Homo sapiens: one gene and its partner. The protein of the gene in region 2 purifies or fractionates together with the protein of the main gene of each other region. This does not show direct contact. Each region holds a gene or a part of one and is shown on either strand. Other genes may lie near its edges.

What was found.
Region 1: the proteins of VANGL1 (region 2) and RFTN1 purify together in Homo sapiens (co-immunoprecipitation; one large-scale study listed by IntAct). This does not show direct contact.

What each region holds. Positions count from the first base shown.
Region 1 is NC_000003.12:16,507,140-16,510,968, reverse strand, and holds part of RFTN1 (raftlin), read left to right. Parts: intron 1-3,829. UniProt on the Homo sapiens protein: Involved in protein trafficking via association with clathrin and AP2 complex.
Region 2 is NC_000001.11:115,696,325-115,699,029, reverse strand, and holds the end of VANGL1 (vang-like protein 1), read right to left. Parts: 3' UTR 809-2,705; downstream 1-808.

The DNA of each region.
Region 1 (3,829 bases), on a different chromosome or scaffold from region 2:
TATTGCTGACTTATGTTCCGGAGTATGTCTTACTCCACAGTTTGTTTGTATATTCTGTTAATGGATACATGGATTATTTTAGTTTCTTTCTTCTAGTTTCTTTCTTTCTTTCTTTGGTTATTGTGAACAAAGCTGCCGTGAACATTTGTGTACAAGTCTCTGTAGGGACATGTGTTCTCATTTCTCATGGGTAAACACCTAGTAGTAAATTGCTGGGTCAAAAAGGAGATATATGGAAACCTGAAAAGAAACTGCCAGACCTTTTCCCAACATGGTTATACCATTTTACAGTCTCACCAGCAAAGAATACAAGTATGAGATTCCAGATACTACAGCCCTGTCTTTCCTATCCTAAAGTCAAGAGCATGGTTTGACTAGTGTTCTTCTGGGGCCAGAGGGAATCTGAGGCAGTGGGGAACATGTTTTTATAGGTGGAGGGGCCATAGGAAGTCCCTGACTCTGCCTGAAAATGGGTTTAAACTTAAATCATTGCAGACGATCAGATGAATATTTTATTTTTAGAGATTTTCAGAGAAGGGAATTCCATAGGGGAATGTACCCTTGGTTGTGAAAGAAGATTGATTGAGTGCTTTCTATAAAAAGAAAAATAACCCCAAGCCCCACAGAATTTTACTAAGCTTCTGCCTAGAAACTCCCGGGGGATTTCTGGTCTATTGGTAGGGTTGATATTAACTTGGTGGAGAGTCCCCTTGGATTTCACCGGCTTGGTCAGCCGGCTACTGAAAGGGGTTGTGTTTATTTTGAGGGGCAGGTCAGATTTGGCTTTGTTAAGACTCAGAGAATGACTCTCTTGTGAAAGTGATCTGGCCTCTCAGTGAGAAACATGGCCTGTCAACACCCCTCTTATTGTCCTGACTGGGAAAATGGGCCTGTGCCCCTCGGGTCCCCTAATAACTTAGTCCCTCTCTGTGGTGCCAACAGCCAAAGCTTGCCTTGGCTGATCTAGGAAACGGGAAGTGAACTTTTCTGTCTGAGTGGGACCCCAGGATGCATGTTTTGCATCCCATCAAGGTGTCCCAGGGCTGACCAAGCTTTGCAGGAGTCAGATGGCAGACAGCTCAGTCTTGAGACATTGCACTGTGTTTGGGGACTGTTCCCTCCTCCTTAAAAGCCTAGCGCAGTGCCTGCCAGAGGGTAGGGACACAGTAAACATTGGCTGAGTGATTTCGTGACTCGTGATACCCATCTGGGTGATCGCCTCTCTGGAGGTTGACAGTGGGTGTCAAGATGTCAGGGCCCCAGGATGTATTTTACTCGAGGGCACTTTACCATGGCTTGGAAAACACATTCAAAGGGTTTGGGCCTAGGAAAATTTTGTTCAGTGTAAACTTTCATTGTATTAACACTGTTCTCTTTATTACTGATTTTAATATTGTTAATAAAATACAAATAATTATAGCTGCCACTTGCTGAGTGCTTACCCTTTGCCAGGCACTGTTGTACATTTTGCACGCATTATCTGAATTTAATCCTCATGAGAGGCGAGTACTTATATTATCTTCACTTCAGCCCTGAGGAAATTGAAGCTTGCAAGGTTAACTTTCCCTAAGTTCACGTTTTCATTTTTCTAAGACCTTAAGGGAAGAGACTGTGACATTCTGGTTTTTTGAAGGCAAAATCTGTCTACAATCACGGATTTCCAAATACACAAAGCCATATTATAATAGAAATGTAAATTAGATAATCAGAACAGCGTTACAGGAAATGATACACTGCAATCATTTTCTTTAGTTTTTTTTTGTTGTTGTTTGTTTGTTTTCATTTTGTCTTAAGCTTACTGAGTTTGGCACAGCCAGGGGCTTATACTAATTTTGATGATAATTTAAAATATTATTGGTTGATTAGGATTACAATTTTATTGAAGGAACAGAAAGACGTTGCCAGCTGAACTGTTCAATACAGTAGCCACTAGTTACATGTGGCTATTTACATTTAAATGTAATGAATTAAAAGAAAAGAAAATTTAAAATTCAGTCCTTCCGTCTCACTCACCGCATTTCAAGTGGCCCAGAGCCACGTGTGGTTAGTGGCTACTGAATTGGATAGCACAGATAGTAGTTTCATCATTGCTGAAAGTTCTGTTTGACAGTGCTGCTCTGTGGTGTTTTTTTTTTACCCTTCAGTTTAAGAATTGGTAACACACTTGGCTAGGGCTTCTGCTATTTTTCACTGACAAAGGGATACATTTAGCCAGATGTTGCTTTTGTGTTTACCTTTTAAAGGGGTGTGTGTGTGTGTGTGTGTGTGTGTGCGTGCGTGTGATCTTTCCTTCCATTCACATTCAGTTTTTGACATACGTTTGAATCTCCCTTTTCTCCTGGGCCCCAAAGGGGCTTTCATTATTAGCATTGCATGTTTTATCAAGACACTTTCTCATAAAAAATTGGTACAGCAGGCAAGCGATAGCCACTGCTTGAACCCGGCTAATTCCTTGCTCTCCAAATAAGAATTCAGTTCAGCTTTTAAATATGCAATTGTGTGACTTACTCCCTACCTGGGCTGAATTCAGGAGGAAAAATCACTCTCAGTGGGCCAGAACCAAAGAGCTGGAAAATCAGGTGACATTCTGCAGTGATGGCTCCCTGCCAGGACTGAGATGGAGGAGACACCATTTGGGGTACTTGAAAGCTTCGTTTAGAGTTTTCCTGGATTTGACCTGCCTCCGGGGTGCAGGGATTGATGGAGAAGGCTGGCAGCTTTGATGTCCCAGTTACATGGGACAGTGGAGGGCTGGTACTGTGGCTGTCACCTCTGCTGGGGTGTACAGTACTTCAGAACCAGCCTCACAGGAGAGAGGAAGCCACTCCTCAGGTGTCTGCAAGCAGCAAGTCCAGCCAGAAGTGGGAAATCAACATAAGCTATGCTTGGCTCAGTTGTTTGATGCCGACAAACTCTTATGCTACTTTAAGATCCCGTATTGGAGGTTTCCACACTTCTTCAACCAGGAAGCCAGATGCACCTCACTGACAACTTTCTCTGGCGTTTACACCTGAAATGTCCCGTCGTGTTGTTCCATAGGCAGACCTCCTTGAGGGTTACAATTTATTCTTTACGGGGGCCTATCAGCTTTCATATGTGTGCATGTGTGTGTGTATATATATGTGTGTATGTGTGTGTGTGTGTATGTATGTATGTATGTGCGTTTGTGTGTGTTTGTGTGTATGTGAGTGTATGTGTGTGTTTGTGTGTATGTGAGTGTGCATGTATGTGTGTATGTGTTTGTGTGTATGTGTGTATGTGTATGTATGTGTGTGTATGTGTGTGTTTATGTGCATTGTGTGTGTATGTATGTGCGTGTTTGTGGATGTGTGCATGTGTGTGTGTATGTGTGTGTGTGTGTGTGTGTGTTTTGAAACTCCCTACTTTGCCTTTTACCCTTTGTCCTGAGGAATCCTTCAAGTTTTATGGAATAGCGCTAAAGTTCCTCAGATTTGGGGGAACTGTTGTAATAGATTTTACTCAGAAAGTTGGGTAAGAGATTTGGTTAATCATAGACTCTGGTTAATGGAACCTGATCATATCATGTATTAGCAAATTTTGGAAATATAAAGCACAAGAAATCAGGTTGTTTATTTAAACACTTCTTTAATTTAGAGAGGTCTTTTGGGATTTTCTGGTGTCTTATGATACCTTATAAGTGCCCTTTTCAGTGTGGCATAATCATGACTATAGGCCAGAGTAGGTCAAAAGGTGTCTTCATAATGAGCAACAAGTAATCCCAGTAGAGTACTAAAACGGTTAATATTTATACTGCTCTTTCTATGTGTCTGAGCTCTTCTGAGCCCTGTTAAATAGTAACTCACCCTAC
Region 2 (2,705 bases):
TGAAAGATCCATCCCATGACCCAAGTTCTCAAGTTCTTAAATCACTCCCTTTAGACCCTACCTCTCAATACTGCCGCACTGGGGATTAAATTTCAACAGGGGATTTGGTGGGAACAAATATCCAAATGATAGCACAAAGTGTATTAGCAGGGTTTACTTATGTAGATATAAATTGTGTACATTTTGCTTAATGGCCCAAAGAAACAGCTTATCAATAATCTAACCAATGAATATCTTTGAGTCAATTGCTTTCTCTAATTTCTGTCCATGCAATAGCTAAGAATTTGATTGTGTGCTGTCAAAATTCTACCACTGAGGTTAGCGGAAAACAGGCTTCATATTTCTTTGCAAATAATCAAATTTCCTTTAAATAGACCTATCTAAAATCAGTTGATAATTTAACTTGAATTCCCAAGCCACTCAGGAAAATAATCCAATATTCACCTCCCACATCAACCCAAAGTCTGTTACTTTTCTGTCTTCTTATTTGACTCAAATACCTTTCCACTTGCTGGTTTACTCAAAAGATCTGTTTCATCTCCATGTTTTAGAGCCTGAGGATTTCATTTTTAGTTATCTATTCAAAACATTTTCTTCACTGTAAAATGATTGACAACTAGTAGTTTTTGTTACAATGGTAATTCTACTTTCCCAATCCATCACAATTGTCTTGGTTTTTATAGAAATATGACAGGTTGTCTTGAAATTCTGAAGGTCTCAAAATTATGCGAGAGTGAAAAATGTCCCTGAAAAAGTAAGCAACTTTTTAGATTGAAATAATCACATGAAGAAAAGAAACAAGACACAATTTGATATTTCAGTTTATTTTCCAAGTTTACAGTATAAAAAATGTGATGTGTAAAACATTTTACAGTTAATTGGGATGAGGGGGGGATTATACTGGAGGACCCAAAAAGGAACAAAATAACTTGGGTGACAGGTACACTATTCCATCAGAGACACTAACTCTGTTACTGACATCACAATGAGAAGAAGTTTCATAGCATAAACCTTATGAATGTAAGTAAATGGACCTGTACAGATGGTTGCTGGTAGTGTCATTCATTCATTTACATGCTTGCAAATGTGTCAAAAGAGCCCACTACCCAGTTTATGCAGGAACTCACTCAGGCCTTGTCATACACATATGGTGACCATGAGCAGAGGCTGGTTGGCAAAACTGCCCCTCCTGGTTACAATGTACAGTATTAACTAATCAGAAAGAACAAAAAAGGTCCCTGACCACATTTTTACACAAACCGTTATGACTCTGTCAGGTAAAGACAGGTGGTTTCATCTCTGAACTTTCTAAATTGGTGCTGGACTTGAAATCAGGAAATGTAAAGTCCTTCTAACCAAAGCAATTATCAAATAATCTCCTCTCAAATAAGACCTGCCTGGCCCAGGCCTCTCTGGTTCTCTCAGTAGCATTTCTGTTGAGGAAGGGGTCATCTATAATGTGAGTTAAATCACTGAGCCAGTATCTGCCCCCACCCTCATCTTTGCTGGCATCCTGCACTCTATGCAATAGTTATGGCCATAAATGACTGTTGGAAATCAAATTTGGCTAATCACGCCATAACTTAGGGGTCCCAGAGGAGTTTGCCATTTAATTAAAGCCTACCGTAAACTATTATAAAAATAAATTATTGCCATAGTTTAGATTTTTGTATGTTCCCTTTTTAAAGAATGATGATGAAAAGTAAGCGAATGTTCCATTACCTCTATAACTGAGAGGTGCTGGTAAATGAAAAACAACTGTTTCATCTTTCTACAAGGCCCCTAGAACGGCAATGATGTGCAACTGTCTAAATTCCCTACAACTTCAGTTGAACTAAACTTGTCACCTGCAGATCAGATGCCCAAGTCCCATCACTAACTCCCTGAGCAACAAGTCTCTGGTCCCCACAGATGAAGCTTTCTTAGGCTGAAGGCTTTTTAGAATTAAACACTCCTAAATGATGAGCAACTTCACAACAAAAGGCCATGTCTACAAGTGAAAGCTCAGATAAAGATAAGCACATACAAAACCAAACAACTGTACATTCAAATAATGCTTCCCAAATACCATTTCAGTGCCAAAAGAAGTGCCAAAGACACTTTTAAGATAAAAGCCTGGGGTTTGTCACCTTTGTCCCCAAAGCTTAAAGTAAGTGTCTTTCTTCCACTATGACAAGGACAAAACGCTGATGTTTGTAAGCTGAGAGAGACATAAATGGTAGAGTCTTGGTGCCATATTGAAAGAAACTTTTCACAGTGCTGCACCTGGCTTTAGGAATCTGCTCTTTTGTTGGAGAGACTAAAACAACCCACTAAAGAGGCTTATTTCATAGACAAAACAAATTGGGTTATCTACGTAGAAACGGAACAGGACCTGGGAAAACGGGACTTATAGAGCCCTGAAATTTAATTTTATTCTGAAGTTTTACATTTCTAATCCATCGCATCTTAATTCCTAATGAGATGTCACATGGAGAGATGTGAGCACCATCTTCCCTTTACTGTCTTCCATTGAAAGCAAACAGCAGGGCAGAAAACTATGGTTTATGCACAACTGAATCAAAACTTACTACATATGGGAACAGAGAAAAATGGTTTTCTGAGTCCTGTTTTACGTCTGCTCTGTCAAAAGTCTTGGGGGCAAGTGTGAGAAAGACGGTGGGATGCAAACTGCTTGCTGAGAACACCTACGTCAAGGAGGCCAG